Regions from separate parts of the Homo sapiens genome. Here regions 2, 3, 4 and 5 are each linked to region 1. The links come from fine-mapping of genetic effects on gene expression. A gene starts in region 1. Each other region holds a variant in brackets. All regions are shown on one strand. Distances are between the middles of the regions. Region 1 holds the start of THOC5 (THO complex subunit 5). Region 2 has its middle 6.2 kb from the start of NF2. Region 3 overlaps THOC5 (THO complex subunit 5). Region 4 overlaps EMID1 (EMI domain containing 1). Region 5 overlaps THOC5 (THO complex subunit 5).

Evidence for each region. PIP is the estimated chance that this variant, and not a neighbour inherited with it, causes the effect.
Region 2: its variant is fine-mapped to the expression of THOC5 in whole blood (TOPMed, PIP above 0.99).
Region 3: its variant is fine-mapped to the expression of THOC5 in subcutaneous fat (GTEx, PIP above 0.99). The same link has a PIP of 0.9 or more in aorta, breast, thyroid and tibial artery.
Region 4: its variant is fine-mapped to the expression of THOC5 in whole blood (TOPMed, PIP 0.94).
Region 5: its variant is fine-mapped to the expression of THOC5 in whole blood (INTERVAL, PIP 0.95).

Annotation. Positions count from the first base shown.
Region 1 is chr22:29,549,504-29,555,899 of GRCh38, forward strand. THOC5 (THO complex subunit 5) reads right to left here and starts at 4,254. Exons shown (of 20, transcript NM_003678.5): 1 at 4,168-4,254. It overlaps NIPSNAP1 (nipsnap homolog 1), which reads right to left. Exons shown (of 10, transcript NM_003634.4): 10 at 5,305-6,396. RefSeq lists enhancers at 2,377-3,076, 4,474-5,171, 4,555-4,624 and a silencer at 3,965-4,154.
Region 2 is chr22:29,594,689-29,600,112 of GRCh38, forward strand. No RefSeq gene overlaps it. Among named protein-coding and RNA genes, the nearest start is that of NF2, 6.2 kb to the right of the region's middle. The variant G/A (reference allele first, on the strand shown) is at 2,452.
Region 3 is chr22:29,527,854-29,534,261 of GRCh38, forward strand. THOC5 (THO complex subunit 5) reads right to left here. Exons shown (of 20, transcript NM_003678.5): 8 at 3,978-4,110; 9 at 1,309-1,386; 10 at 573-613; 11 at 225-324. Among named protein-coding and RNA genes, the nearest start is that of THOC5, 23 kb to the right of the region's middle. The variant C/T (reference allele first, on the strand shown) is at 3,756.
Region 4 is chr22:29,226,517-29,232,831 of GRCh38, forward strand. EMID1 (EMI domain containing 1) reads left to right here. Exons shown (of 15, transcript NM_133455.4): 5 at 1-35; 6 at 4,504-4,624; 7 at 5,077-5,166; 8 at 5,740-5,886. Among named protein-coding and RNA genes, the nearest start is that of EMID1, 24 kb to the left of the region's middle. The variant T/C (reference allele first, on the strand shown) is at 3,441.
Region 5 is chr22:29,505,638-29,512,045 of GRCh38, forward strand. It overlaps THOC5 (THO complex subunit 5), which reads right to left. Exons shown (of 20, transcript NM_003678.5): 18 at 6,384-6,408; 19 at 5,469-5,659; 20 at 242-2,883. The coding sequence ends at 2,820. Among named protein-coding and RNA genes, the nearest start is that of NEFH, 29 kb to the left of the region's middle. The variant C/A (reference allele first, on the strand shown) is at 2,813.

The DNA.
Region 1 (6,396 bases):
ATCTCAACACCCTAGGCCAGGCCCTCCACATTCCTCTCCAGGACTACTCTAACAGTCTTGCCCAACAATACTGTCTAAATTCTCTTTCTTAAAAAAGACCGACCTAATTAATGCCTCTCCTGTTTCAAAACCTTTGCTGGCTCTTCATAATGCACTGAATATCCATATTCCCTGACTTGTCATAAAGACCCTTGATGGTTTGTCCCCAACCTACCTTCCCAACTTCATTTCTTGCATTCCTATTCCTACCGACCTTCCCACTGTCCCCAACCTCTGCTCCTAGCTGCAACTGCACCCTGCAATCCCAGTTCCCCAAACACTCCATGTCTTTTCCCCTGCTTGCAAAGATCTTCCTTTTCCTCCCTATATCCTTCAAGACTAAGCAATGCTCATCTGCTCTAGGAAGCCTGTCAGGTCTCCCCAAAGCCCTCTTTTGGCTACTTTGGGTACACTATTAGGGAATTTATCTCTATGAATCATTTACCTGTCTTCCCACCTAGATTGTGAGCTCTACCCTCTTCCCCCTGAGCCTGGCAGAGTGCTCCATAAATTAGTATCCAAACTCCTCGGTCTGGCATTTAAAGACACTCCCAATACTACTGTGATCACTGTGTGCTGGGCCTTGATCTAACTACTTTATGGGTATGTTCTCATTTGCTCCTTATAACAAACTTTTCAGCTAAGAACTACCACCATTTCACAGATGACAAAACTGAGGCTCGCAAGGGGAATTACTTGCAAGTAATTGCGAGTCACATGACTAGTAGGCCAAAATCCGGATCTATCCAATCAATGCCATACTGGTGCTCTTAACTACACTTTTATGCCTCCTAGTCCTGCCAGCCTCTCATCTAGTGATGCCATTGACTCCCAGGTTGATCCTAGAATTTAAAGTATAGAACCTACATTTCATGGGGCTCTACAGTCACAAAGCATCCTCCCTTGTTGCCTCACCACAGCCTCCTGAGGTGGGCAGCACTGTCCCCTTTACCCTAATCCCTCTTGCTCTGTCACCCAAGCTGGAGTGCAGTGGCACAATCATCACTCACTGAAGCTTCCACATCCCCGACTTGAGGGAGCCAATAGTTTGTCACGGTAAAAGTCAGAGAGCCCTGAACTGGAATCTCCATTCTACTCTTTCATGGCTATGAGTCCCCGGACGAGTCACTTCACTTTTCTCTGGGTCTGATTCCTCACAAATCAAATGAGAATAACAGTCCCTACCACAGGGGTTGTTGTGGGCTTTAACACAGGAGGCATTCCACTGGGGAAGGTGATGAAGATGACCTGGGACTGTGGCTTCAGATGATGCATAGGTGATCTTAAATAATGCTGAACACCTAAGGAGAAAGTTAATCCCTTTTCAATTCTTATTTTGAAACTTCTGATTGCTTCAAGGAGAACATCTCAGTTCCCTAGTTTGTCTTTAACATCTATGAATGCCAATGTTCCTTTGTAACAAAAGAACTCTATCCCACAGCCTTAAACAACAAAATCTAGCCAGAGTTTGTTAACAATGATCTAGTTGCATTATATTAACTATATTAATTTTTACCTTCTACATAAAACAAGTGAAAGCAGCTTTCCATTTCTGGTGGAGAGATTTCAAGTTTTCTCTCAAAGTAAATTTGAGTTTAAAAAGTGACTTGGCTGGGCGCAGTGGCTCAGGCCTGTAATCCCAGCACTTTGGGAGGCTGAGGCGGGTGGATCACCTGAGGTCAGGAGTTTGAGACCAGCCTGGCCAACATGGTGAAACCCCGTCAGTACCACAAATACAAAAATTAGCCGGGAGTGGAGGCGGGCGCCTGTAATCTCAGCTACTCAGGAGGCTGAGGTAGGAGAATCACTTGAACCCAGGGAGCAGAGGTTGCAATGAGCCGAGATCGCAGCCACTTCACTCCAGCCTGGGCAACAGAGCGAGATTCAGTCTCAACAACAACAAAAAAAGTGACTGGGCCCAACACCATGGCTCACACCTGTAATCCCAACACTTTGGGAAACCAAGGCAAGCAGAGGTGAGAGAATCGCTTGAGCCCAGGCGTTCAAGACCAGAGTGGGCAACAGAGCGAGACCCCATCTTTAGAAAACATTTTAAAATTAGCCTAGTATGGCGGTGCACACCTGTGGTCCCAAGCTACTCTGGAGGCTAGGGTGGGAGGATGGCTTGAGCCCAGAAGTTCCAGGCTGCAGTGAGCTATGATCGCGCCACTGCACTCAGTCTTGACAACAGAGATCCCGTTGCAAAAAAAAAATTTGGACTGGATTAAAAATTTTTAGTAAACCCCTCCCCCTCCCCCCTCCCCCTCTCTCCACGGTCTCCCTCTGATGCCGAGCCGAAGCTGGACTGTACTGCGGCCATCTCGGCTCACTGGAACCTCTCTGCCTGATTCTCCTGCCTCAGCCTGCCGAGTGCCTGCAATTGCAGGCGCGCGCCGCCACGCCTGACTGGTTTTCGTATTTTTTGGTGGAGACGGGGTTTCGCTGTGTTGGCCAGGCTGGTCTCCAGCTCCTGACCGCGAGTGATCGGCCAGCCTCGGCCTCCCGAGGTGCCAGGATTGCAGACGGAGTCTCGTTCACTCAGTGCTCAATGGTGCCCAGGCTGGAGTGCAGTGGCGTGATCTCGGCTCGCTACAACCTCCACCTCCCAGCCGCCTGCCTTGGCCTCCCAAAGTGCCAAGATTGCAGCCTCTGCCCGGCCGCCACCCCGTCTGGGAAGTGAGGAGCGTCTCTGCCCGGCTGCCCATCATCTGGGATGTGAGGAGCCCCTCTGCCCGGCTGCCCAGTCTGGGAAGTGAGGAGCACCTCTTCCCGGACCCCATCCCGTCTAGGAAGTGAGGAGTGTCTCTGCCCGGCCGCCCATCATCTCAGATGTGGGGAGCACCTCTGCCCCGCCGCCCCGTCTGGGATGTGAGGAGCACCTCTGCCCGGCTGCGACCCCGTCTGGGAGGTGAGGAGCGTCTCTGCCCGGCTGCCCCGTCTGAGAGGTGAGGAGCCCCTCCACCCAGCAGCCGCCCCGTCCGGGAGGTGGGGGGCAGCCCCCGCCCGGCCAGCCGCCCCGTCCGGGGGGGAGGTGGGGGCCAGCCCCAGCCCGGCCAGCCGCCCCGTCGGGTCGGGGGTAGGGGGGCGCCTCCGCCTGGCCGCCACCCCGTCCGGGAGGTGGGGGGCGCCTCTGCCCGGCCGCCCCTTCTGGGAGGTGAGGAGCCCCTCTGCCTGGCCGCCACCCCGTCTGGGAGGTGTACCCAACAGCTCATTGAGAACGGGCCATGATGACGATGGCGGTTTTGTCTAGTAGAGAGGGGGGAAATGTGGGGAAAAGATAGAGAAATCGGATTGTTGCTGTGTCTGTGTGGAGAGAGGTGGACAAGGGAGACTCCATTTTGTTCTGTACTGAGAGAAATTCTTCTGCCTTGGGATGCTGTTGGTCTATAGCCTTACCCCCAACCCCGTGCTCTCTGAAACATGTGCTGTGTCCACTCAGGGTTAAATGGATTAAGGGCGGGGCAAGATGTGCTTTGTTAAACAGAAGCTTGAAGGCAGCATGCTCCTTAAGAGTCATCACCACTCCCTAATCTCAAGTACCCAGGGACACAAACACTGCGGAAGGCTGCAGGGTCCTCTGCCTAGGAAAACCAGAGACCTTTGTTCACTTGTTTATCTGCTGACCTTCCCTCCACTATTGTCCTATGACCCTGCCAAATCCCCTCTGCGAGAAACACCCAAGAATTATCAATAAATACTAAAACAAACAAACAAACAAATTTTTAATAAACGGTAGTAGAGGTGGTAAGTTGATCTGGCAAAGCCTACAAAGACCGGACCTGAAAGGCTTAAGTGTGGGAAATCCTGACTTTGGCAACACAGTAGAGTGCCTGGCACACCGAAGAGCACGATATATGTGAGCTGTTACCATCACCACCACCCCCACCCCCATCAGGCTACATTACCACAATCAAGAGGCTCCAACGTGAAGCCTGAGGATGCTGCAGCGAACACTTTTCGGATGAGGTAACAGCGCAGCGCCGAGAGGCCGGGGACCGCGGGTAGTGAGGGAGGAGAAGCCGGGTCAGACCCCAGCCCAGGGGCGCCCTTTGGGCGATCAGCACCTCAGTCCCGGAGCGCCCAGCCCCGCCCCATCTCCCAGCCCCACTGCCCTTGTCCCCTCCTCACCTCACAGCTCCAAGAACCTGGCACCGGGAGTAAGCCACTGCCGGAGGCGGAGCAAAGCTTGCCCGCGCACCATAGAGAACCGGAAGTAAGGAAGGGGCGGCCGACCGGAAGCGAGGCGTAGAGGCCGGAAGCTCAGCGCGGAGGCCCCCGAGGGAGGTGGTGGCGTGGTGAGACTGTAAAAACAAAGACACATGCTTCTCGTTCACTGTGCCCAGGGCCTAAGAGAGTGTCCAGCAGCTAGTGGGCGCTCCACCGAGTAGTTGAATTAATGTTGTGTTATGTCCAAGATAACACGAAAGAACCTGGTAGCGCGGCGGGGAAGATTTCGGCGCTAGAGGATTTGCCTGCATAACCTTACTTCTTAATTATTATTTTTACCATAATATGCCACGCCAGTGAAGGCAACAAGTCAGGGAGGGCATTAACCTCATTTTACACTTGGCTTTTTGAGGAGTGCATCACCAGTTTCTCCATTTTAGGCCTGACTTGCCCAGGACAGAGTCACAACTCTAACGCAGTATTTGAAAGCTTCAGGTATTTCCTACCCCTGGCATGAACTGTACAAACAAGGCCCAGGATTTTTTCGTGTAAATCCTCATCTGGAGCTAGTAACACGTGTCCTGAATCCCTGGTTGTACGGGGCCAGTTCCTTCTCCTTCCCAGGAGCAAGGAGGAAAATACTGGCTCTTTTTTATTTTTATTTTTATTTGAGACAGAGTTTTGCTCTCTCACCCAGGCTGAAGTGCAGTGGCGCAATCCCCGCTCACTGCAAACTCCGACTCCAGGGTTTAAAGGATTCTCCTGCCTCAGCCTCCTAAGTAGCTGGGATTACAGGCATGCACCACCATGCCCAGCTAATTTTTGTATTTTTAGTAGAGACAGGGTTTCACCATGTTGCCCAGGCTGGTCTTGAACTCCTGACCTCACTCAAGTGATCTGCCCACCTCGGACTTCCAAAATGCTGGGATTACAGGCGTGAGCCACTGCACCCAACCAGTACTGACTGTTGAGAATAGCTCAAGAACACAGTACCCTCCAGGAGGGTAGATCTGCCATGTGGGACTAAGCCCACCAGCTCTACTGTGCCCTGCCTCAGGCACCTGCTAAAGTTCCTTGCAGATGAAGAAAAGACACTGATTTATAGTAAATATTTAATTGTTTCCATCAGCAATTCCAGCACAAGTTTTCCTGGATGGTAGGCAGAATCAAGCTACCCAAGGGTTCATGATGAGGTATGGGGGTCACTGAGGAGACCCCCAGAGTCACTGACCCCTCCCGCCACCTCCACACACCAGGTGGCCCTGCAGAATGAGGGTTGGGCTGATAGAATGTCAATTAGGGGAGACAGGATACAGGGTGAGGGAACAGGGTCTAGCTTGTATATTTGCCTGCAGGAAGGAGGGAGGGCAGGAGAGACTCTGCATAGAAGGACTGGAACTACACATTTAAGTTTTCAACCCCAATATGCAGGGGGAAACAGCCAAGCCACTCTCCATCTGTCTAGTATTAGGAACCTCTCTTCAAGTGGTCTTTTGTCATCTCTGTTCTTCTTCCCAATTCTGTATTCCAGATTCCAAATTCTACAATTGAAACCCAAGTTCTGAATTCTAAGTTCTACCTTCCGAGTTCCTGTTACGTGTCTGTCTCCTGCCCCTAAATCTTTCCTGGCTCCCATCCCTTTCCCCAGCCCCTCTGGGCAGAATGTCTGAACCTCCTCCTGACCGTGGTGACGAGGTTTGTTTGTATTTGTTTTTTTGTTTTGGCAGTTCCAGGCTTTTCTCCAGCAGGAGGGACTTGGCTCAGACTGTCCAGCAAGTGGGTGGCCCAGTGGAAACCAGGGAATTCCTGAGGGCCTGGCCTGGCCTCCTCTCTTCCCACCCCACCTCTAGCCACTGGACATACTACCTTTTGTGCAACTAAGCTAAACAGAGGATTTCCAAGGGTGATAACTGGGGACTGGTGGCCTTGAGATGAGGAATTTTAGAAGATAAATGAAGGCCTAAAAGATCACTATCTTTCATTCAGGGAAATCAGAAACTACTTCTAGCAGGGGGAGGGAGGCAGGCAGGGAAAGTAGAAAGGGCCTGGGCAGAGCTGTAATCCTCAGAACTTGTCAGCCTTCAGTTCCCCCTTGTCTGAACTGAGCACTGCCCCTCAGAGTCCTCCCAGAGCCAAGACAAAACCAAGACAGCAGGACCAGGAGTGCCACTGTCTGTCGGGGTTGCCTGA
Region 2 (5,424 bases), 45 kb after region 1:
AGGTGGATTAATTGAGCCCAGGAGTTCAAGACCACATTGAGCAACATGGCAAAACCCTTCTCTACTGAAAATACAAAAATTAGCTGGGTGTGGTGGCACACGCCTGTAGTCCCAGCTACAAGGGAGGGCTGAGGCACAAGAATCCTTGAATCCAGGGAGGTGGAGCTGGCAGTGAGTAGCTGAGACTACATCCATGCACCGCCATGCCCAGCTAATTTATATTTTTAGTAGAGATGAGGTTTTGTCACATTGGCCAGGCTCTTCATCAACTCCTGAGTTCAGGCAATCCACCCACCTTGACCTCCCAAAGTGTTAAGAGTTACAGGCATGAGCCAGGCACCAGGCCTCAATGTTAATTTCTTGATTTTGATCATTGTATTACGATTAACTAAAATGTTAACATTAGAGGATGCTAAGTGAAGGATATAGAGAAACTCTACTATTTTTGCAGGTTTTAAGTCCAATATTAGGTCAAAATAAAAAGCTTATAAATTATACACATTAAAAAATACTTTGTTGGTGGGGCGCGGTAGCTCACGCCTGTAATCCCAGCACTTTGGGAGGCCGAAGCAGGCGGATCACTTGAGGTCAGGAGTTCGAGACTAGCCTGGTCAACATGGTGAAATCCTGTCTCTACTAAAAATACAAAAATTAGCCATGCGTGGTGGCAGGCACCTGTAATCCCAGCTACTCTGGAGGCTGAGACAGAATTGCTTGAACCTGGGAGGCGGAGGTTGCAGTGAGCCGAGATCGCGCCACTGCACTCCAGCCTGGGTGACAGACCAAGACTCCATCTCAAAAAACAAATTTGTTATGTAAGGTCTTGTCCCAAGAAGAATAAACAATAACAAAACCTTAAATAAGAGATCTATAACTGTGTAAAAAGAAATACAGCTAGTGCAACAATTAAATAGTAAGTGGGTAGGGAAAAATTCACTGTAAAGTAAGCAAGAGCAGCAAGAATAAAATAAAGCCAAAAATAAGGCAAGGTCAAGTACAATTGCCAGAGGCAGACATACAATTTGGCTCTGAGCTTCTTACCAGCAGGAAGGAAACTTGATTACTTGAGTTACAATGTGTGTAAGAGAAAAAAACTTAAAATTTACATCCATACATAAAGTCCTGTACATTTCTTAGAAAATTATATTATAAAATATTTAGTGACGGGTGAGGATATTAATGAATGAAAAATTAACAAATGGCCAGGCGTGGTGGCTCACGCCTGTAATCCCAGCACTTTGGGAGGCCGAGGTGGGTGAATCACAAGGTCCTGAGTTCAAGACCAACCAGGCCAAGATGGTGAAACCCCGTCTCTACTAAAACACAAAAATTAGCCGGGCGTGGTGGCGGGCACCTATAATCTCAGCTACTCGGGAGGCTGAGGCAGAGAACTGCTTGAACCCAGGAGGAGGAGGTTGCAGTGAGCCAAGATTGCGCCACTGCACTCCAGCCCAGCTAAGACTCCGTCTCAAAAAAAATAAAATTAACAAATCATAAAACAATAAGTAGTATGCGATAGCAGTGGGTCAGTGGATTATGCGAGTTAAATTTTTTTTTTTTTTTTGAGACGGAATCTCGCTCTGTCATCCAGGCTGGGGTGCAGTGGCGCGATCTCAGCTCACTGCAACTTCTGCTTCCTGGGTTCAAGCGATTCTCCTGCCTCAGCCACCCCAGTAGCTGGGACTATAAGCACGCACCACTGCGCTCAGCTAACTTTTGTATTTTTTTAAGACACAGGTTCTCACCATGTTGGTCAGGCTGCTCTCAAACTCCCGATCTGGTGATCCACCCGCCTCCGCCTCTCAAAATACTGGGATTACAGGAGTGAGCCACTGCGCTCAGCCCCAACAGTTGTTTTTCTTGGTCGGGCGAGGTGAGCTGGGTGACTCATACCTGTAACCCCAGCACTTTCGAATGCCAAGCTGGGAGGATCGCTTGAGGCCAGGAGTTTGAGACCAGCCTGGGCAACATAGCAAGATCCTTGTCTCTACAAAAAATTTTTTAAAAATTAGCATGGCATGGTGGTGCCTTTAGCCCCCGCTAATTGGGAGGCTGAGGTGCAAGGATCTCTTGACCCTAGGAACTCAGAGCCACAATTAGCTATGATCGTGTCACAGCAGCACTCCAGCTTGGGTGAGAGTGAGTTCCCATTTCTTTACCAAAAAATGTTTTTCTTTCTGGCTGCTTTCTATTGCTGTGCAATAAATTGCTATACATTTAGTGGCTTAAAGTAACATACAGGCCAAGCACAGTGGCTCGCATCTGTAATTCCAGCACTTTGGGAGGCTGAGACAGAAAAATGGCTTGAACCCCGGAGACCAGCCTGGGCAACATCACAAAACTGTCTCTACCAAAAAAAAAAAATTAACGTTGCGTGACGGTGCATGCCTGTAGTCCTGTGTCCGGGATTGGTGGGTTCTCAGTCTCACTGACTTCAAGAATGAAGCCGAG[G/A]ACCCTCATGTTGAGTGTCACAGTTCTTAAAGGCGACGTGTCCAAAGTTTGTTCCTTCTAATGTTCTGATGTGTTCCGCGTTTCTTCCTTCTGGTGGGTTCATGGTCACCGGCTCAGAAGTGAAACTCCACACTTCCGCAGTGACTGTTACAGCTCTTAAGGCGGCGCTTCTGGAGTTGTTCCTTTCTCCCGGTGGGTTCGTAGTCTCGCTGGCTTCAGGACTTAAGCTGCAGACCTTTGCAGGTAATATTACAGCTCATAAAAGCACTGTGGACCCAAACAAGGAGCAAACAAACAAAGCTCCCACAATATATGAAACAAGCTGCACAGGTTATCACTGCTAGCACCGGCAGCCTGCTTTTATTTTCTTATCTGGCCCCACCCACATCCTGCTGATTGGTCCATTTTACAGACAGCCGATTGGTCTGTTTTACAGAGAGCTGATTGGTCCATTTTGACAGGGTGCTGATTGGTGCGTTTACAATCCCTGAGCTAGACACGAAAGTTCTCCACCTCCCCACTAGATTAGCTAGATACAGAGTGTCTATTGGTGTATTTACAAACCCTGAGCTAGACATAGAGGGATGATTGGTGCATTTACAAACCTTGAGCTAGATACAGAGTGCCGATTTGTGCATTCCCCTTAGCTAGACATAAAGATTCTCCAAGTCCCCACCAGACTAGCTAGATAACAGAGTATGGAGTGGTGCATTCACAAACCCTGAGCTGGACACAGAGTGCTGATTGGTGTGCTTACAAACCTTGAGCTAGATACAGAGTGCTGATTGGTGTATTTACAATCCCTTGGCTAGACATAAAGGTTCTCCAAGTCCCCACCAGACTCAGGAGCCCAGCTGGCTTCACCCAGTGGATTCTGCACCGTGGCCGCAGATGGGGCTGCCTGCCAGTCCCCCGCCATGCGCCTGCACTCCTCAGCCGTCGGACGGTCGATGGGACTGGGCGCCCTGGAGCAGGGAGCGGCGCTCGTCGGGGAGGCTCCGGCTGCGCAGGAGCCCACGGCGGTGGCAGAGAGGTTCAGGCATGGCGGGCTGCAGGTCCCAAGCCCTTCTCCGCGGAGGGGCAGCTAAGACCGGCGAGAAATCGAGCACAGCAGCTGGTGGCCCAGGTGCTAAGCCCCTCACTGCCCGGGGCTTGCCGGCGGGCCGGCCGCTCTAAGTGCGGGGCCCGCTGAGCCCACGCCCACCCGCAATTCGCGCTGGCCCGCAAGCGCCGCGCGCAGCCCCAGTTCTTGCCCGTGCCTCTGCCTCTACACCTCCCCGCAAGCTGAGGGAGCCGGTTCCGGCCGTGGCCAGCCCAGAAAGGGACTCCCACAGTGCAGCGGCGGGCTGAAGGGCTCCTCAAGCGCGGCCAGAGTGGGTGCCAAGGCCGAGGAGGCACCGAGAGCGAGCGAGGGCTGCGAGGGCTGCCAGCATGACCTCACCTCTCAGTCCCAGCTACGCGGGAGGCTGAGGCGGAGGGATCACTTGATCCAGTGAAGGTCTAGGCTGAGCCATGATCTTGCCACTGCACTGCAGCCTGGGCGACAGAGCGAGACCTTGTCTCAGAAACAAACAAAAATCTCTGCTCTAGAGCACAGTTTCTTTATCTTGGCACTATTGACACTTTGACCTGGATAATTCTTTATTGTGGGGAGTTGTCCTGCGCATTGTGGAATGTTGAACGCCATCATTGGCTTTTACCCTTAGAGGCCAGGAACATCCCCCAGTTGTGACAACCAAAAAAGTCTCCAGACATTGCCAAATGTCCCCTGTAGGGCAGGGACCACTATCTGAGAAACACTGATCTGGAAGAGCAAAGTGTAAATCAGGAGAGATATGGATGAAACCACTCCTAGATGCAAATTGCAGCTCTACCAATCATGGCTGTGGGTAAATTACCTCTTTTCAGCCTTATTCAGTTTCCTCAGATATAAACTGAGGATATTACACCTACCAAATGTGGTTTTGAAAAAGGTCAAAATAGTCTGGGCGCGGTGGCTCATGTCTGTAATCCCAGCACTTTGGGAAGCTGAGGCGGGTGGATCACCTGAGGTCAGGAGTTCCAGACCAGCCTGGGCAACATGGTGAAACCCCGTCTCTACTAAAATACAAAAAATTATCTGGGCGTGGTGGCGCACCTGTAGTCCCACCTACTCTGGAGGCTGAGGCAGGAGAATTGCTTGGGCCCCAGAGGCAGAGGTTGCAGTGAGCCGAGATCGTGCCACTGCACCATAGCTTGGGCTACAGTGCAAGACTCCATGTCAAAAAAAAAAAAAAGAAGATCAAGATAAACAAAGCATGCAAAGCACTTTGCAGAGTGCTGTATATGGTAAGCATTTAAAATATGGTAGCTACTAATATTGTCCAGACCATAGTTGACACCGTAAGTATTTCTTTATGACCGTCACTCATTCATTCAACAGATATTTATTAACTGGGGTCTGTGTGCCAGATCATAATAAGCTCTATCTGAATTCCCCCTCAGACCCTTATCTGGTGCATATAATTATCATCTGTGTTTATTTATTTATTATTATTTTTTGTTTTGAGATGGATTTTCACTCTTGTTGCCCAGGCTAGAGTGCAATGACGCGATCTCGGCTCACTGCAACCTCTGCTTCCTGGGTTTAAGAGATTCTCCTGCCTCAGCCTCCCGACTAGCTGGGATTACAGGCACCCAGCACCAAGCCAGGCTAAGTTTTTGTATTTTTAGTAGAGACGGGAGTTTCACCATGTTGTCCAGGCTGGTCTTGAACTCCTGACCTCAGGTGATCCACCCACCTCGGCCTCCCAAATTGCTGGGATTAGAAGTGTGAGCCACTGTGCCTGGCCGTATTTATTCTTTTTTTTTTTTTTTTTTTTTTGAGACGGAGTCTCGCTCTGTTGCCCAGGCTGGAGTGCAGTGGCGCGATCTCGGCTCACTGCAAGCTCCACCTCCCGGGTTCACGCCATTCTCCTGCCTCAGCCTCCCGAG
Region 3 (6,408 bases), 22 kb before region 1:
AAGCTTCTGCCTTATGTGACTGGAGTTTTGTTGCTATGTTGTTACGGTTATGATTTAACAAAAAGAAACAAAGTCCATGCAAAACAATAAGGAAAAACAAAGCAATATGAAATGGGAATCCTTTGTTGGGCAAATGGGTGTTTGGCTCCCGGACCCTCTGCACCTGCAGCTGGGTGAACTCTTAGGTGCTACAGATCCCTTAAACAAGGTGAGTGCAACCAGACCTTTGCACTTCAGGTCGAGCATGACAGACAGTGGGTGCCTCTTCAGCATCTCCTTGCGTTTGTCGTCCAACTGAACCCCCAGTGTGGGTCTCCGGCGCTTCTGGACAAAGGAAAGTGCCAAGCTGATGAGCATCAGTCATAGCAATCTCCCCTTCCCTCTCCCAACCAGCCAGGCCTCAGCCCTACTGCCTGGCACCTGCTGCTTCAGCTAGCTGGGTTGTCAGACTCCCCTCCCAGCAGCACCTTCTTTCACACCTCTTCTGCTTCTAGGGAGGACGGCACCTGCGAACAAGCATGCCCCAGTGCATGCAGCTGCTTGATGCCCCCACAAGAGGAAATGGTTCTCACCGTAGTCTGCTCCTCCTCGGCATCTGAGTCACTCTCGTCATCTGCAGCCACAGAGAGAAGGCAGCTAGAGGTGAGGGGGCTCCAAATGCTCCCTAAAGCACTCCAACCCACATGGCATAAAGGGGCCCTGACTCTGTCTTTTGTAAATAAGTTTCTCTGTAATAAATAATAAATTAACTTGCTGCTTCTTATTCAGTATACAAAACATGGTGATGAAAAAAGAAAAAAGAAGAATGACGTATAACTCATTTTTTTCAAAGGGCTTTTTGATGTCATTTAGATGGAACACAAGCCCCTCCTTGTGATGGTGGTGGTGGCTGTGGTAATAATAGTAACACAAATAATAATAATAGTAGTAGAAGCATGCATAACTTGAGGGGGTACTATGTGCTGAGAATTATGCTAAAGGCTGTATGTGCATTACCTTATTTAATCCACATAACAATCCTACATGAGGTGTTACTATCTGTTTTCACAAAGGAATAAACTGAGGCTCTGAAATATTAAATACCTTCCTCGGGGTCAGTCAGCTAGTGAGTGGCAGGGCTGAAATCCACGGGCCGCACCTTGTGACTCCGGGAAGTGAGCTCTCTTTCCTGTCTACTCCAGGGTGCTAAGACATTCAAGTCAAGCTTCCTGCTACACAGAACTAGTCCAGCTAGTTCTCCAAAGACCAGGACTGCCCTTGGATGGTGACCTGGTGTCCCTGGGGGACGAATCCCAACCACCACATTACCTTGGGAGTCCTCTGGAGGTTTGAACAGAGCCTTGGCTTCATCCACACTGCCTTCGATTGCCACAGATAACGTCTTATCTGGGGGGCAAGAAGAAGTCTGTTAGGAAAGCTGCTGAGGAAAGCTGCTAAGCAGTGTGAGTAGGCCAGCTCTGGGGCTGCATTTCTCCCACCTCTGCCCAGCTCCTTGCTGACTAAGGGTGGAAGGGCAAAAGTCCTTGCTCCAGATGAAGGGAAACAAGGTGGGACACTTAAGCTTTTTTTTCCGTCATTTACTGAGAACAGAGAACTTAAGTACAAATTCCTAAACCAGCATCACCTGAAACTAGCAGTGAATGCCTCTCTTTTTTGGTGCACACCAAAGCACAGAAATTCAAACTGAGGGCCTAAAGCCACATGGAACTCCTCTGCCAGTTGTCTTAGAGGTTCTCACCCAGAAATCCACACCTGTCCACATCCCAGAAACAATGACTCTCACCTAAGTGCTTATTCTCTATTCTACACTATACCAAGCACATGGCTGCCATTGTCTCACTTAACTGGGAGGCAGTAGGACAGTGAATAGGAACTTGGATCTTGCAGTCCAGTTCCAGACCTGAGTCCCTGCCTAACCAATTCTCAAACACATGACCTGGAAAGTTATGTCACTGTCTGAGCCTCAGTTTCTGTATCTATGAAAAGGGGACTTGAAAAATAGTAGCTGCCGGGTGCAGTGGCTCACACCTGTAATCTCAGCACTTTGGGAGGCCGAGGCAGGTGGATCACCTGAGGTCAGGAGTTCAGAGACCAGCCTGGCCAACATGGCAAAATCCCGTCTGTACTAAAAATACAAAAATTAGCTGTGTGTGGTGGCATGTGCCTGTAACCCCATCTACTTGGGAGGCTGAGACAGGAGAATTGCTTGAATCCAGGAGGTGGAGGTTACTGTGAACCAAGATCATGCTACTGCACTGCAGCCTGGGCAACAGAGTGAGACTCTGTCTCAAAAAAAAAAGAAAAAAGAAAAACAGTAGCTGCCCCATTAGTGGTGGGGACTGAATGAGCTGATGCTTGTAATTTTAATTATAAAATTATTAAAAATTAATTTTTAGGCTGGGTGTGGTGGCTCATGTCTGGTTGGGAGGCCAAGGTGAGTGGATCACCTGAGATCAGGAGTTCGAGACCAGCCTGGCCAACATGGTGAAACTCTGTCTCTACTAAATATATAAAAATTAGCCAGGCACGGTGGTGGGTGCCTGTAATCCCAGCTACTTGGGAGGCTGAGGCAGGGAGAATTGCTTGAACCTGGGAAGCAGAGGTTGCAGTGAGCCAAGATCATGCCACTGCACTCCAGCCTGGGCAACAGAGCCAGACTCCATCTCAAAAAAAAAAATTTTTTTTAATACTCACAACAACCCTACAGGAGTAATACATTATAGCCATTTATAGATGAGAAACTTAAGGCTCAGAGAAGCTAGACATCACAGCTATAAGGCTGATAAACCAGGATTCAAGACCAGGTCTGTTCAACTTAAGCTTGGCCTCTCCAGCACATGAGCTAACAGCCTGTTGCATACACCAGGTATGACACCTCATTGAGTGATGTCTTGAGACCCCCTCTGAGGGTCTAGCGTTGTGAGGTCAGACAGGCCACCACCGTCCAACTCCATTCTTAAGGGTACATATGGTCCCAAGAGCCTGAAACGGTTTGCCTAGCCACACTAAGGAGGGATGGCAAACTTCCCCCAAGTGGCTGACCACTGCCTTATCTATGGCAACCCTATGTGAATCACCACCCTTCACCCCAAGCAACTAGTTGCTCCCATCAAGCACTGGCAAACAACAGACTATTTTTTTCAGCCATTTAATATTAGCATTCTACAAGAACATCAGAATGGAACAGGCCGATTTTAAACATAAAAGAAAAGAAAATTACTCACCCTGTCTAGGGGGCTGGGAGGATTTCATATGAGCTGATGATGGAAACAGGAGGGAGAACAAAGGGGAGGGGAGGACCAGAAGGACGAGGAAGACACAAGAAGAGACAGTAATGTGTTGGTGCCCAAGGTGGGAGGAGAAGCAAGCACTGGTGCGGTGTATGTCTGTCTGATGAGGTGGGGTGGGGTGGGGGAGAAAATGTAGGTGCTGGGTGAAAGCTGCATTAGGGCAAAAGGCAGAGTCTCCAAAATTTTCTCAAAACCCTAGCAGAGTCACAGGCTGCCCTCAAGCTTAATGAGGACATATCATCTAACCTGGAAATTCACAACAAAGACATGCAGCCTGATTCAAGGCATGGTGAAAGCCTGGGAGAGCTGGCTGAGACCTGTATTCACCAGGCACCCCCACCCTGAAGCAGAGCAAGAGGCACTGATCTAACTGCCAAGCGTGCCTTGATGGGGTGAGCACCTGGGAGCCCAGACAGGCTGCCTGGGTTCTGCACCCAAGAGCTGTCCAGCCAGGCTCACGAATGA[C/T]TCAAAGCCACCCATTGTGAAATACCCATCAGGTTAATCCAGCCTTAGGCCAGCTGGTCAGAGCAGCCATGCTGGGCAATGCAGAGGGAAGAAAGCTTCTGTCACCTGAGGGCTTCGGGCAGGACTGAGAAATTTCCTGAGCAGGTACTGCTTCCAACTGATTCACTCGGCCACAGCTGCTGCTCCCATAGCCCCTTGTCCTCACCCAGGCCCCATACTCACCACAGGCCTGCCCATACGCAGTGGCCTGAACAAAGAGGACATAGAGGGGAGGCGGCAGGTGTCTGGCTGTCTCATACTGCTTGTGAGCCTGGTCGAATGGCATAAACAGGTACTCCTGCACCGGAAGGGAAGCCTGCACACAAGAGACAGATTTTTGTTCTTCCTTTTTTAGCCAGTCCACACAGGAAAAAGTGGCTACTTAGTGACCGTAAATCATTATTTATAAAAGTGATACATGATAAACTAATAGAACTAATAGGTGGATAAAAGCTCAACGTAAACAAAATTATATTTCTTTATACTAGCAACAAACAGTAAGGAAATAAAATTGTTTTATTTTACCTACTGTCAGGGCACCCTGGCTCATGCCCATAGTCCCAGCACTTTGGGAGGCTGAGGCAGGAGGATCACTTGAGGCCAGGAGTTCAAGAGCAGCCTGGGTAACTTAGCGAGATGCCATTTCCACAAAAAATAAAAATCAATTTAAAAAAAGAAATTATAAAAAGATGCCATTTCAATACCATCAATAAAACATCAAATAAGAATAAACAGGCCGGGCATAGTGGCTCACGCCTGTAATCTCAGCACTTTGGGAGGCTGAGGCAGATGGATCACCTGAGGTCGGGAGATCAAGACCAGCCTGACGGACACAGAGAACCCCGTCTCTACTAAAAAAAATACAAAATTAGCTGGGCGTGGTGGCATATGCCTGTAATCCCAGCTACTCGGGAGGCTGAGGCAGGAGCATCACTTGAATCCAGGAAGTGGAGGTTGCGGTGAGCCGAGATCATGCCATTGCACTCCAGCCTGGGCAACAAGAGCAAAACTCTGTCTCAAAAAACAAACAAAAAATAATAAACAAGCAGGCTGGGTGCAGTGGCTCATGCCTGTAATCCCAGCACTTTGGGAGGCCGAGGCAGGTGGATCACCTGAGGTCAGGAGTTTGAGACCAGCCTGGCCAACATGGTGAAACCCAATCTCTGCTATAAATACAAAAATTGGCCAAGTGTGGGGGCACGCACCTGTAATCCCAGCTACTCCAGAGGCTGAGGCAGAAGAATTACTTGAACCTGGGAGACGGAGGTTGCAGTGAGCCAAGATTGTACCACTGCACTCCAGCCTGGGCAAGAGAGCAAGACCCTGCCTCAAAATAAAACAAAATAAAATAAACAAATGAAAGGCATATAAGCCTCTACACAAAAACCTGAGAAATGAAAAGTCTAAAATAAGTGGATACATGTGAATGTCAATGGCCTGGAAGACTCAAATATTGTCCAGGTAACAATTTATTCTAAAGTGGTCTGCAGATTCAATGCAATCCCTGTCAAAATCCCAGCAGGTGAAAACAGACAACCTGATTCTGAAACTTGTATGTAAATGCAAAGGGCCAAGAATAACCAAGACAATCCTGAAGAAATAGGTTGGAACTGTGCATCGAGACTTCTGATAAAGCCACAGTAAATAAGACAGTGTGATACTGTGCAAGGATGGACACAGAGATTATACACATATCCACATGTACAAAGACATTTGATTTGTAACAAAAGTGGCACTACAGAGCAGTGGAAAGAGAATGTCTTCAATAAATGGTCAGCTAAATACCTATGTGGAAAGAAAAAATGAATCTTTACCCTTAACTAACAAAATCACTTCCAGGATGACAACAGATTTAAATAGAAAGATTTCTTAAACAAGACACAAAAAAAGTACTAACCATAAAGGAAAAGAATAATTAGTAAAATTAGGAACATGCACTCATTAAAAGATACCATTAGCAAAGTGAAAAGGCAGGAGGTTACAGAATGGGGAAGACCTGGGAAAAAACTCATCTCCAGGCAACCCAACAGAAAACAGGCAAAAGACTTGCCTAGACCCATCACAAGAGGTTATCCAAAAGGCAAAATGTGCTGTGTTCAACATCACTAGTCCTCAGGGAAATAAAAATTAAAACTATAATGAGATACCCTCCAGAGTAGCCAAAATTAAGGAGACTGACAGTATAAAGTGTTGACAAGGATGTAAAACAATTAGAACTTGCATATGGTGCTGGTGGGAATTTCTGTAAATCGGTACAACCAGTTTAGAAAACTGTTTCAGTGTCTACAAAAGCTAAATATATGTATAACATACTGTATGACCTAGAATTTCATTCCTGGGTATATATTCAACAGACAGATGTACACATGTATGCCAAAACACATGTATAAGAATGCTCATAGCAGCATTATTGAAATGGCCCTAAACCGGAAACAACCAATTACTAAACATCAATGAAAACAAACTCTTGTACTCACAATAGCACAGATGAATCTTAGAAACATACTGCTGAACAAAAGAAGCCAGACATAGGAGTATATACTATGATTCTCTTTGTATAGAGTTCAAAAATAGGCAAAACTAACCTATGATGTTAAGATGTCAAGATTATGGT
Region 4 (6,315 bases), 320 kb before region 1:
AGCTGACAGAGCGGCTGAAGGTGCTGGAGGCCAAGGTGGGTGAGCAGCTCCCTCCTGGGTGGTTGTTCCCTGCCACAGGCCAGTCCAGGCAACCACCATCCCACCCTCCCCACCTCCTTCCCCGCACCCCATGCTCGCACCCTCAGTGAACCCACAGGGCAGCTCTGAACTGACTCGGCGAGCAGCATCCCCTGTCAGGCATGTCATGGTCTCCTCCAGTGTCCCTCCCTAGGAAGCCTGCTCACAGGTCGTGCCTCAGTTTTCCCACCTGTCAAGCGGAGGGGATACTAGCATCCACTCAGGGAAAACTGTATATGTGAAGCGCAAGTCACAGCCAGCCTGGCCTGTTCTTCCTCCAGGAGGCCTGTGAGCTCCCTCCCATGGGGCTCCATCACCATCCCCACCAGATCAGCATAGACACTGCCCAGAGATCCTGGTAGGATCTCCTGCCTGCCCCTGCCCCATCCCCTTTCTCTATCCCCCCAACCCCCATCCATAATACTATCTTCCTGGTTTCAAAAACAAAACATCTATCACACATCTCAAATTATTTCAAGATAAAATGTTGTGTATTTTTTGTTTTGTTTTGTTTGAAACAGGGTCTTCCTCTGTTGCCCAGGCTGGAGTGCAGTGGCGAGATCTCAGCTCACTGCAACCTATGCCTCCTGGGCTCAAATGATCCTCCCACCTCAGCCTCCTGAGTAGCTGGGACCATAGGTGAACAATACCACATCCAGCTAATTTTTAAATTTTTGGTAGAGATGGGGTTTCTCCATGTTGCCCAGGCTGGTCTTGAACTTCTAAGCTCAAGCAATTCACTGTCTTGGCCTCCCAAAGTGCTGGGATTACAGGTGTGAGCCGCTGCGCTGCCATAAAACTTTTTTTTTTTTTTAAATTAAAAAGTACTGCTTGGCGCAGCGGCTCACACCTGTAATCTCCATACTTTAGGAGGCCGAGGCAGGTGGATTGCTTGAGGCCAAGAGTTCGAGACCATTCTGGCCAACATGGCATAACCCTGTCTCTTTTAAAAATACAAAAATTAGCCTGGCATGGTGGCACACACCCATAATCCCAGCTACAAAGGAGGCTGAGGCTTGAGGATCACTTGAACCTGGGAGGTGGAGGTTGTAGTGAGCCAAGATTGCGCCACTGTATTCCAGCCTGGGTAACAGAGCGAGACTCTGTCTCAAAAAAAAAAAAAAAAAAAAAAACAAATTAGGCCAGGCGCAGTGGCTCATGCCTGTAATCTCAGCATTTGAGAGGCCGAGCCGGGTGGATCACAAGGTCAGGAGTTCAAGACCAGCCTGGCTAAGATGGTGAAACCTCATCTTTACTAAAAATACAAAAAATTAGCCGGGGCCGAGTGCCGTGGCTCACGCCTGTAATCACAGCACTTTGGGAGGTCAAGGAGGGCGGATCACCTGAGGTCAAGAGTTCAAGACCAGCCTGACCAACTTGGAGAAACCCCATCTCTACTAAAAATACAAAAATTAGCCGGGCATGGTGGCGCATGCCTGTAATCCCAGCTACTCGGGAGGCTGAGGCAGGAGAATCGCTTGAACCCGGGAGGCAGAGGTTGCAGTGAGCCGAGATTGTGCCATTGCACTCCAGCCTGGGCAACAAGAACGAAACTCCATCTCAAAAAAAAAAAAAAAAAAAAATGAGCCGAGTGTGGTGGCAGGTACCTGTAATCCCAGCTACTTGGGAGGCTGAGGCAGAGAATTGCTTGAACCCAGGAGGCAGAGGTTGCAGTGAGCCGAGATTGCACCACTGCTCTCCACCCTGGACGACAGAGCGAGACTCCGTCTCAAGAAAAAAAAAAGTAATTAATTAATTAATTTAAATTAAAAAGTACAACATTCTAAATTTAGAAACATGAAAAATTCAGAAATGTGAAAAAACAGCCAGCAAACCATTCACAGCAGTTGCCCATGCCCCCAAAGAATGCAACTGTCGACACTTAAGCATCCTTTCTTCCAGATTTTCTAAACACACAGACATGCATACACTTTAGTGCCATTCTTTGCTCCATCATTCCCTTCTCTGGAAATTTATCTTTTGTTTGTTCGTTTTGTTTTGATTCAGAAACAGGGTCTTGCTCTGTCACCCAGGCTGGAGTGCAGGCATTGCAATCTGCCGTGAGTTGGAGCTCACTGCAGCCTCCAATTCCTGGGCTCAAGCTATCCTCCTGCCCCAACCTCCTGAGTAGCTGGCATTACGGACATGTGCCACCACACCTGGCTAGTTTAAAAAACTTTTTTTAGAGCTGGGGTCTTGCTATGTTTCCTAAACTGGTCCTGAACTCTTGGCCTCAAGGAATCCTCCTGCCTCAGCCTCCAGGAGTGTTGGGATTACAGATGTGAGCCATTGTGCCCAGCCTGGGAACTTAATGAGATTATCAGATGCAAAAATGTTTACCAATAGAGAAATTTGAAAACCAGGCAAAAGAAGGCATGGTTGTATAATTGTGGAGAATTCATTCTATGGGGCATTCAGCAGCCATTTACAATACTTCCCTTCCCTAATATGAAAAGATTTCTCTAGGCTGGGCATGGTGGCTCACACCTGTAATCCCAGCACTTTGGAAGGCCGAAGCAGGAGGATTGCTTGAGGCCTGGAGCCCGAGACCAGCCTGGGCAACATAGCAAGACTCCATCTCTACAAAAAATTAGCTAGGCTTAGTGGCACACAGCTGGCACACAGTCCCAGCTGCTTAAGAGGCTGAGGCAGGAGGATCACTTGAGCTCAGACGGACAAGGCTGCAGTGAGTCGTGATAGCACCACTGCACTCTAGCCTGGACGGCAGAGCTAGACCCTGTCTCTAAAATTAAAAAAAAGAAGATGCCGCTGGGCGCGGTGGCTCATGCCTGTAATCCCAGCACTTTGGGAAGCTGAGGCGGGCGGATCACATGAGGTCAGGAGTTCGAGACCAGCCTGACCAACATGGAGAAACCCCATCTCTACTAAAAGTACAAAATTAGCCAGGCTTGGTGGCGCATGCCTGTAATCTCAGCTACTAGGGAGGCCGAGGCAGGAGAATTGCTTGAACCTGGGAGGCGGAGGTTGCGGTGAGCCAAGATCACGCCATTGCACTCCAGCCTGGGCAACAAGAGCAAAACTCCACCTCAAAAAAAAAAAAAAAAGAAGATGCCCCTGATTTATCAAATGGGAAAACCAAGCTTCCAAATAGCGTGTGCTGGCACCTGAGTTACAAGGCACGGGGTTCCAGGAGCAGTTCCCTGAGCTCCCTCCCAGGAGAAGCCCATGTAAGAGGCAACTCAGTCCCACATCTTGATGGGAATTCCTGGTTCAGGATCTGCCAGAGAGTTTCAGCTTTTCTCTGGACAGGCCCCCACGATCCCTGAGCCCCTGATCTGTGGTCATCTGGCCTTTCGTTGGTCCTCAGCAGCTGAGGGGACACTTCCAGCTTCCCAGAGTCT[T/C]CCTCACCATGGGCCCAAAAGTGGACTTTGTGTACACCTCCAGGTTTCTATTTCATGTCAGACTCTTCCAAACTTCCTTCCAAATTTAGTGAAAGGCCGGGAGTGGTGGCTCACGCCTGTAATCCCAACACTTTGGGAGGCTGAGATAAGCAGATCACTTCAGGTCAGGAGTTTGAGACCAGCCTGGCCAATGTGGTCAAACCCCATCTCTACTAAAAATACAAAAATTAGCTAGGTGTGGTGGCGCATGACTGTAATCCCAGTTACTCTGGAGGCTGAGGCAGGAGAATCACTTGAACCCGGGAGGCGGAGGTTGCAGTGAGCCGAGATCGTGCCACTACACTCCAGCCTGGGCAACAGAGCAAGGCTCTCCATCTTGGAAAAAAAAAAAACAAAAAAACAAACTAAGTGAAACTCTTCCAGCCATACCCTGTGGTGCTTTAAGAAATCAAGACAAGCTTCTTATTTGGATAACCATAGAGAAAAAGCACATGGCCCAGCAAGCACCGCGACAGTCACAAAGCTCAACTTTGATGGCAATGATGGTGTCAGTGACTTTTCCATAATGCGTGTTATGAATTGTGTGCTTTGAAAAACACTGTCACTTCTGATGAAGTTCGGTGCCCCTGCGAGCCTGGGGCTCCACTCCAAGCTGGGCCCTGCTGGCCATGTGCCTCCTGCCTCCCACACCAGGCCCCTTGGCTGGCCTGTCCGTGGTGAGACCCTGGCTCATGCCTGTAATCCCAACACTTTGGGAGGCTGAGGCAAGATGATTGCTTGAGCCCAGGAGTTCAAGACCAGCCTGGGCAACATAGCGAGACCTCGTCTCTACAAATAATTTTTTTTTAAATTTGCCATGTGTGGTGGTGCATCCCTGTGGTCCCAGCTACTTGGAAGGCTGAGGCAGAAGGATCGCTTAAGCCCGGGTGGTTGAGGCTGCATGAGCCGTCATAGTACTACTGCATTCTAGCCTGGGCAACAGAGCAAAACTCCATCTCAAAAAAAATAGGGAGGGGTCCTAGTGAGACCCTGGTACCCACCCCGTCCCTGTCTTCCTCTTCAGATGACCATGCTGACTGTCATAGAGCAGCCAGTACCTCCAACACCAGCTACCCCTGAGGACCCTGCCCCGCTCTGGGGTCCCCCTCCTGCCCAGGGCAGCCCCGGAGATGGAGGCCTCCAGGGTGAGTGTCAGACTCAGACTCCCCTGTGGGAATGAGCAGTGGGTTGGGAATCGGGGAAGTGGGATTCTGGTCCCCACCCTGTCGCTGACTCCCAACTTAACCCTCTAGTGGGCCTCAGTCTTCCCATTTCCCGTTTCTTAGACCCGCCTAAGAGGACCGTCTCCTGGGACTCCTGAATGCTGCAGTCCCTGGAGACCAAGCAGCCCCAGCAGACCCTGCCTGGAGGTCGGGGGGAGCTGGGAGTGGGGATTCTGGATGAGCCTCCCTCCTCCAGGCCCAGCAGGGACACTGACCTCTGCCTACCCCCCCCACCCCAGGGCTGCCAGGAGCCATAGAGAGTGTGAGGGTCCCGCTGCTTCCCCGAAATGGTAGATGCTGGTTGGGGGGCTGGGGCCAGGGTGGGGGTCAAGAGCAGATGTGGAGCTGCCAGTCTGATATGCTTTACCCCCCAGACCAAGTCGGTGCTTGGGGGCTTCCCGGGCCCACCGGCCCCAAGGGAGATGCCGGCAGTCGGGGCCCAATGGGGATGAGAGGCCCACCAGGTGAGTGCCCGCAATGCTGCCCCACAGCTCCTCTGGCCATCCCCTCCACCAGGTGGGCCCTTCCCTGCTCCTGACATGGCCAGGATGACCTGGGCCCTTTCATCTACTTGCCTCTTCACTCAGCACCCCACCACGGAGTGCCCTGCCCACGCCTGGGCTCCATGAAGTCCTCTCTTATGTTCACTGACCCACATTCCCTGGGCACCTACACTTATCAGGCTCTGAGCTGGGCACTGGGTGGGGTCAGACATGTCCCTGCCCTTCTGGAGCTTCCATGCTGCTGGGAGCAGGGCTGGGCAGAGGAGAAGCAGCAATGCTTGCCCCATGTGACCAGGGTTTCTATGAGGGGTTTTGGGGGTTTGGGAGCCCCAAGGAAGGAAGACTCAGCCTGGACGAGGTGGAGAACTAGGTGCTGTGCTCATCCCCCTGTTAGACTACCAGGCAGCCTAGGCCTGTGGACTCCGGGGCCCTCTCTCATGCCCACTGCTCCAGGCTGCCTTGTCCTGTCGCTCAAGGCCACCCTGGGCCTCCTTGCCTCCTGTATACCCACAAATCCGTGTGATTCCATTGCAGGTCCACAGGGCCCCCCAGGGAGCCCTGGCCGGGCTGGAGCTGTGGGCACCCCTGGAGAGAGGGGACCTCCTGGGCCACCAGGGCCTCCTGGCCCCCCTGGGCCCCCAGCCCCTGTTGGGCCACCCCATGCCCGGATCTCCCAGCATGGTGAGTCCCCCTGGGATCCCAGCAGGTGGAGGTGGGGGTGGAGTAGCCATCAGCACAGTGCCCGCTACCATCTGCCACGTGCCTTCTGTGTGCCAGCCCTGCTCACGATAGGCCACATGTGACCCAGTCCTCCAGCAGGCGCCGTTGTCCTCCTGTGGTTACAGGTGAGGAACACTGAGGACCAGAGAGGGAAGGTGGCTTGCCAGGGTCCCACAGCCTGGGCGTAGGGGAACGGCTTCAAACCCAGGCTGCCTCCAGAACCTGTGCTTAGAGCCACCGGGCATCAGGCCCTCCCAAGCCTTGGAACTGGCTGGAATCCAGTTCTCGGAACACTGGGACGCAAAAGACCCGGCGGCAGGAAGTGAGTCCTGAACTCCCAAGGCCACAGGCCCGGCCCCTCCTCCAGGCCCTGACGTGCGTCCTTGGCTT
Region 5 (6,408 bases), 44 kb before region 1:
CCTGGAGGAATAGCTTTTATACTGGAGGTCTGCATTATCCATGGAAAATCAGTAAAAGTCCACTTAGGGGGAATATGCTTATGATGGGAACCAAGCTTAACAGCATGTTGTGGGGGGATAAAGTTTCATCAGGACAATCACAAAAAATAAAATGTGTTTCCTCTTGGAGTTAGCAAACTATATCTGCAACTATGTAATAATTCTCAAATATTTTTACATTTCTACATCTTTTTTTTTTTTTCCAAGACGGAGTCTTGCTCTGTTGTCCAGATGGTGCAGTGGCACCATCTCGGCTCAGTGCAACCTCCGCCTCGGGGATTCAAGCAATTCTCCTGCCTCAGCCTCCCGAGTGGCTGGGATTACAGGCGCGCACCACCATGCCCAGCTAATTTTTGTATTTTTAGTAGAGACGGGGTTTCACCATGTTGGCCAGGCTGGTCTTGAACTCCTGATCTCAGGTGATCCGCCCACCAGCCTCCCAAAGTACTGATATTAAAGGCGTAAGCCACTGTGCCCAGCCCATCTTATTTTTTAAAATGAAGAATGGAGTACTGATGGTGGGGTCAAGATACACTTTTTGACAAAACTGTCCAAGAATAGTCTATGCCATCCTTTACTTTGACTTGCAGGAGTATTACAAAGGATGTAATTTTATGAACATTTTAAAGGTTGTTACCTATCTTCCCAAGACTTCTCTTAATCAAATAATTATATTTTGAGGCACTTTTGTCATTACCTTAAAGACTCTACTCAGGCCGGGTGTGGTGGCTCATGCCTATAATCCTAGCACTTTGGGAGGCCGAGGTGGGAGGATCATTTGAGCCCAGGAGTTTGAGACCAGCCTGGGAAAAATAGTGGGATCCCGCCTCTACAAAAAATTTAAAAATTAGCCAGAAATGGTGGCACACACCTGTGGTCCCAGCTACTTGGGAGGCTGAGGCAGGAGGATCACTTGAACCCAGGAGAGGTTGAGGCGGCAGTGAGCTGTGTTCGTGCCACTGCACTCCAGCCTGGACAACAGAGCAAGACCCTGTCTCAATAAAAAAAAAATATTCTCCTCAAATGTTACCTGGTCTCACTGTCCTGTATCTCTGTATGTGATTGATTCTCCAACACCACTCTCGCCATCTCCATGAAATCCTGTAAGACTTAGAATTACTCTCTGTGAAGTACAGTTGATCTCTGAACAATAGTTTGGACTCTGTGGGTCTATTATATGCAGATTTCTTTTTTTAAAATTTTTTAGAGATAGGGACTCGCATTGTTTCCCAGGCTGGAGTACAGTACAGGCACGATGAATAGCTCACTGCTACCTTGAACTCCTGGACTCCAGTCATCCGCCCACCTCAGCCTTCTGAGTAACTGGGACTATTGGTGCATACCACCACACCTGGCTGATTTTTAAATTTTTTGTAGATACAGGGTCTCTCACTACGTTGCCCAGGCTGGACCTGAACTCCTGGCCTCAAGGGATCCTCCCGCCTTAGCTTTCCAAAGTACTAGGATTACAGTCATGAGTCCCTGCACAGATTTTGTTCAATAAAAATAACAGTGGTGCCTGCCTCCCCCTCCACCTCCCCCACTTTTTCTGCCTCTGCCATCCCTGAGACACCAAGACCAACCCCTCCTCTTCCTTAGACTATTCAACCCTGAGACAGTATGTGAAGACCTTTATGGTGATCCACTTCTACTTAATAGTAGATATATATTTTCTTCCTTATGGCTTTCTTATTTATTTATTTTTGAGACGGAGTCTCACTCTCGCCCAAGCCGGAGCGCAGGAGCGTGATCTTGGCTTACTGCAACCTCTGCCTCATGGGTTCAAGTAATTCTGCCTCAGCCTCCTGAGTAACTGGGACTACAGGCATGCGCCACCACGCTTGGCTAATTTCCATGTTTTTAGTAGAGACAGGGTTTCACCATGTCGGCCAGGCTGGTCTCAAACTCCTGACCTCAAGTGATCCACCCGCCTTGGCCTCCCAAAGTGCTGGGATTACAGACGTGAGCCACTGCACTCAGGCCCCCTTGTGACTTTCCTTATAACATTTTCTTTTCTCTAGTTTACTGTATTGTAAGAATACAGTGTATAAGATACAAAATATATACTGAAAATATGTACTGACTATGTTAGCAGTAAGTAACTACTAATAGCATACTACTGGTCAACAGCAGGCTATTAGTTAAGTTTTTAGGGAGTCAAAAGTTATACACGGATTTTTCAACTGTGCAGGGCAGGGGGTGTTGGTGCCCCTAACCCCTGAGTTGTTCAAGGATCAACTGAGTTTGTCTTCTGTTTGCACTGCACTGTCAGACATTTATAACATCCAACGATCAGAGACAATTTGTCCATCGGCAACCCTGACAGGACTAATGGGAAGAGCGGGTGGGGAGGGAAGAGTTTTGCTTTTTGTGCTCTGCTGCCTTTGGCTTCTCCTACCACCTCTTAACAGCAGGAACTTGGGATAATAAATACAAGATCATGAGGACCTCACCCCGCAAAGCACAAATAGGGTGTGCGTAGACAAGAGGTGAGCATCTCTCTGCAGAATTGGAATCTTTTTCCACTCTGCTTTTATTGGCTGCTGAGAAAAAGTCTCTCTACAAATGCTTTTTCACACTGTGTCACAGCTCCCACCTGCCCTTCCAGACTGCAAAGCCACCTTGCCAGGAACCACAGACAAAGGCCACTGGTCAGGTGACGCTTTTTAATTGGCTGGTGTCTTTGGAGAATATCAAGAGTCACATGTGGGCCAGAGCAGAAAGCAGAAGCCCAGTGCTCAGGGTGAGGCCTTGGGGGAAACAACGGTCTGCG[C/A]GGGAGATCAGCGATGGCTGAAGAATCCCTGAGGATGGTTGTATTTAAATGGCTTCATCCTGCTAGGACCCCTAGAGAAATAGGAGAACGGAGTTGTTAATAACACACCTTCTAGGCTGATAAAATAAATTATGGTTCATTCACACAAGGGAAAAAGAAGAGGCAGAGTTACATGACACAGAATGTTGTTGAGAAAAGCATACGGCAGAACAACATATAAGGTGCGATACTATTTTTGTAAAAATGTCTTTTTGTGCTTGCAAATGAGTGAACACAAACTTGGAAAGGCCCTCACTGACAGTGGCACTTCGGGGACATAGCTTTAGGCACCCTCACTTTTTAGGATTGTTCCTTTTTTTATTTTTTGAGACGGAGTCTCTGTGTCGCCCAGGCTGGAGTGCAGTGGCGTGATCTCGGCTCACTGCAACCCCTGCTTCCCGGGTTCAAAGGATTTTTGTACCTCAGCCTCCCAAGTAGCTGGGATTACAGGCATGCACCACCACGCCCGGGTTTAGGTTGAGGTTTAGTTTAGGTTTTGCCATGTTGGCCAGGCTGGTGGAACTCCTGGCCTCAGGTCTCTTGCTGCCCATGCCAGCACTCTGCATCCTGGCCGGAGAGCCTTGCCTCTCACATCTACCGGCCATAGAGTTAACTGGATCTGAGTCACTGAAGGAGCACCTTCCCAGAATGCTGACAGAGGAGCTCAGCCTGGAGACACAACAAAGCCCTTCAAGAATGGGGTCCTTTGGCCGGGAGGTGGAGGTTGCAGTGAGCCGAGATCATGCTACTACACTCCAGCCTGGGCGACAGAGTGAGACTCTGTCTCAAAAAAAAAAAAAAAAAGAAAAAAGAAAAAGAAATGGGTCCTTTGGGAACCACTGGAGAAGAGGAAATCAATGCTGGCCATGTGAGAATTCCCACCCTGGCAATGTGCTAGAATGGGCTGGGCAGGTGAGAAGAGCAGAGGTCTCACACAAGCCCTCTAGGGAGAGAGCAAGTCCTAGAAGGTGCCAGCATCTGGCCACCAGCTCCACCTCCCAGCAGCCACTCAGAGCTGGAACTGGTTATTATGAGATAACATAATGAACCAGGCCAGTGGAGGTGTCAGATGAGGTGAAAGGATGCTGGGACTGCTTCTAGGGGCTAGAACTGGCTGTCTGAGAACAAGGTGAGGGAGAGGTAAGGCACTGTTTAGACTGACAGGGAACAGAGAACAAGGTGAGGGAGAGGTAAGGCACTGCTTAGACTGACAGGGAACAGAGAACAAGGTAAGGGAGAGGTAAGGCACTGCTTAGACTGACAGGGAACAGAGAACAAGGTGAGGGAGAGGTAAGGCACTGCTTAGACTGACAGGGAACAGAGAACAAGGTGAGGGAGAGGTAAGGCACTGCTTAGACTGACAGGGAACAGAGAACAAGGTGAGGGAGAGGTAAGGCACTGCTTAGACTGACAGGGAACAGAGAACAAGGTGAGGGAGAGATAAGGCACTGTGTAGACTGACAGGGAACAAGGGGGGATGTTCTGATTAGAAACAGATTATCACTCTTCTTCCTTCCCAAACACTGCTCCCCGCCAACCTCATGCAGAAGGGAAGGGATGCCTGAGCAGTGAAATCTGCAGTTTTGAAACTGACTCTTAAAAGAACATGAGTTAGAGGCTGAAAGGGAAATAAAGGACCCAAAATGAAAGAGAAAGGAAAAGTAGCTGGAAGTGCCATGAGCCCAGACACTCTTGAGTACCAAGCTGTCAGGAACTGCTGGCATTTTCCGAGTCCCAGTCCTGTGCCAGGACTTTATATGAATTACTTCTGCTTCATCATGAGCTAGAAGGTATTACTTTCACCATTTCTGTCTTTAGAAAATAGGGGTCAGGCACAATGGCTCATGCCTGTAATCCCAGCACTTTGGGAGGCTGAGACAAGCTGATCACTTGAGCCTAGGAGTTTGAGACCAGCCTGGCTAATATGGTGAAACCCCATCTCTACAAAAAAATTTAAAAATTAGTTGCGTGTGGCGGTGCATGTCTGTGGTCCCAGCTACTAGGGAGGCTGAGGCGGAAGGATCGTTTGAGCTCCAGAGGTCAAGACTGCAAGGCTACAGTGGGCTATGATCATGCTGCTGCACTCCAGTCTGGGCAAGAGAGTAAGACCGTGTCTCAAAGAAAAGGAAACAAACAAACAAAAAGCTGGAGGAGGGCTCAGAGCTAAGCAGAACTGACTCTTCTAAGGTCAGCAGCAAAACAGAGATCTGCACTCCTATCTGTTTTACTTTGAAGCTGGTTCCTTCTGTGCCACCTGACTGCCTAAGCTGTGATTCTCACTGACAGGACAGTACCCTAGAAAGACCACAGCAGACTCCCTGGGGACAGGCGAGGATGCACACAGTTTAAAAAGCTTATTTGGACACTAAAAAGCAAACAAACTCTATTGTTTTCCACAGAAAGTATAGAAAATAAAGTTCAGCCAAATCCTCTTGGCTCAGACCTGGCACTAACACCTTCAGGAGGTGTTAGTGAAAAACAGGTGGACCAGAGTGATAGGCATCGGCTGCAGGGGAAGTTTCAGGAAGGAAGAAGCAAGCTCTCCCCAGAAAATCTGGCTCTGATCTCTGTCCCACATCACCATGAGAAGTCACCAGAGCCCCAACCCTCTCCTCACCTGAAGAGCCGCAGACACATCTTCTCCTGGGGAAATTCCTTGGGCCCCTCCACACTGTCGTCATGGCTCTCGGTCTCCAGGTAAACATCCAGCAGCACACACAGCCGCTGCAGCTGGTTGGTCAACAGCTGGTGGCTGGGCCAAGGGCCACACAGCTCCTTGTAGCACACATTGACTTCGCCCTCCATGGCCTGTGTGATAGGAAAGCCAGCATCTCAGCACTACCTTCCTGCATGTGGGGGACCACACTGGCCAGGCTTCCGTCCCTGGATGGGCCCGAGCGCTGATGCCTCTGCAGGGGCTGGGCCAGGGGCTAGGCCATCAGATCAAGCTAGACTGGCTTGTCCTCAGGCCCCCTCATCAAGACAATGAGGTCTTCCTGATTCTGACCCATAGCTTTCCCTGCCTCATATGCCCACAGCCAGGAAAACAGAGGTGTGCAGGGAAGCAGTCTCAAAATAAGACCTAAGTCAGAAGATGTTGGTTAAAAACGTGTTCCATGGCATGTTTGACTTAGTAGCAGCAATGCTGATTAACAACTGCAATGCTGATTAACAGCTGCAATGCTGATTAACAACTGCAGTGATGTCATTCCTCATGTCATTCCAGTGCTTCTATAATGCTTCAGAGCTTATTCACATTTTTTATAGGAGCCCAAGCCAATAACCTTTCAAGGTAGGTATTTCTCCTTACTCTCTAAGTGGGGAAACCTGTGGACCCCAAGGTAGGCAAGTAGGTCTGGGCTCTTTCCTCTAGTACACCACACAAGCTCCAGCAAATTCTGCAAATCCTGGCACAACCTTCTGTTTTGGGAATTAAGGCAGTGCCCAAGTCCTCAGCTGCAGTGGGTTCTGCCACGGCCACCTCCCCCGGGAGCTCTGCCTGCTCCTCCTGTCATCCCCAGCTGGGTCTTACCCGAATGTTGTCATCGTTGCTGTTG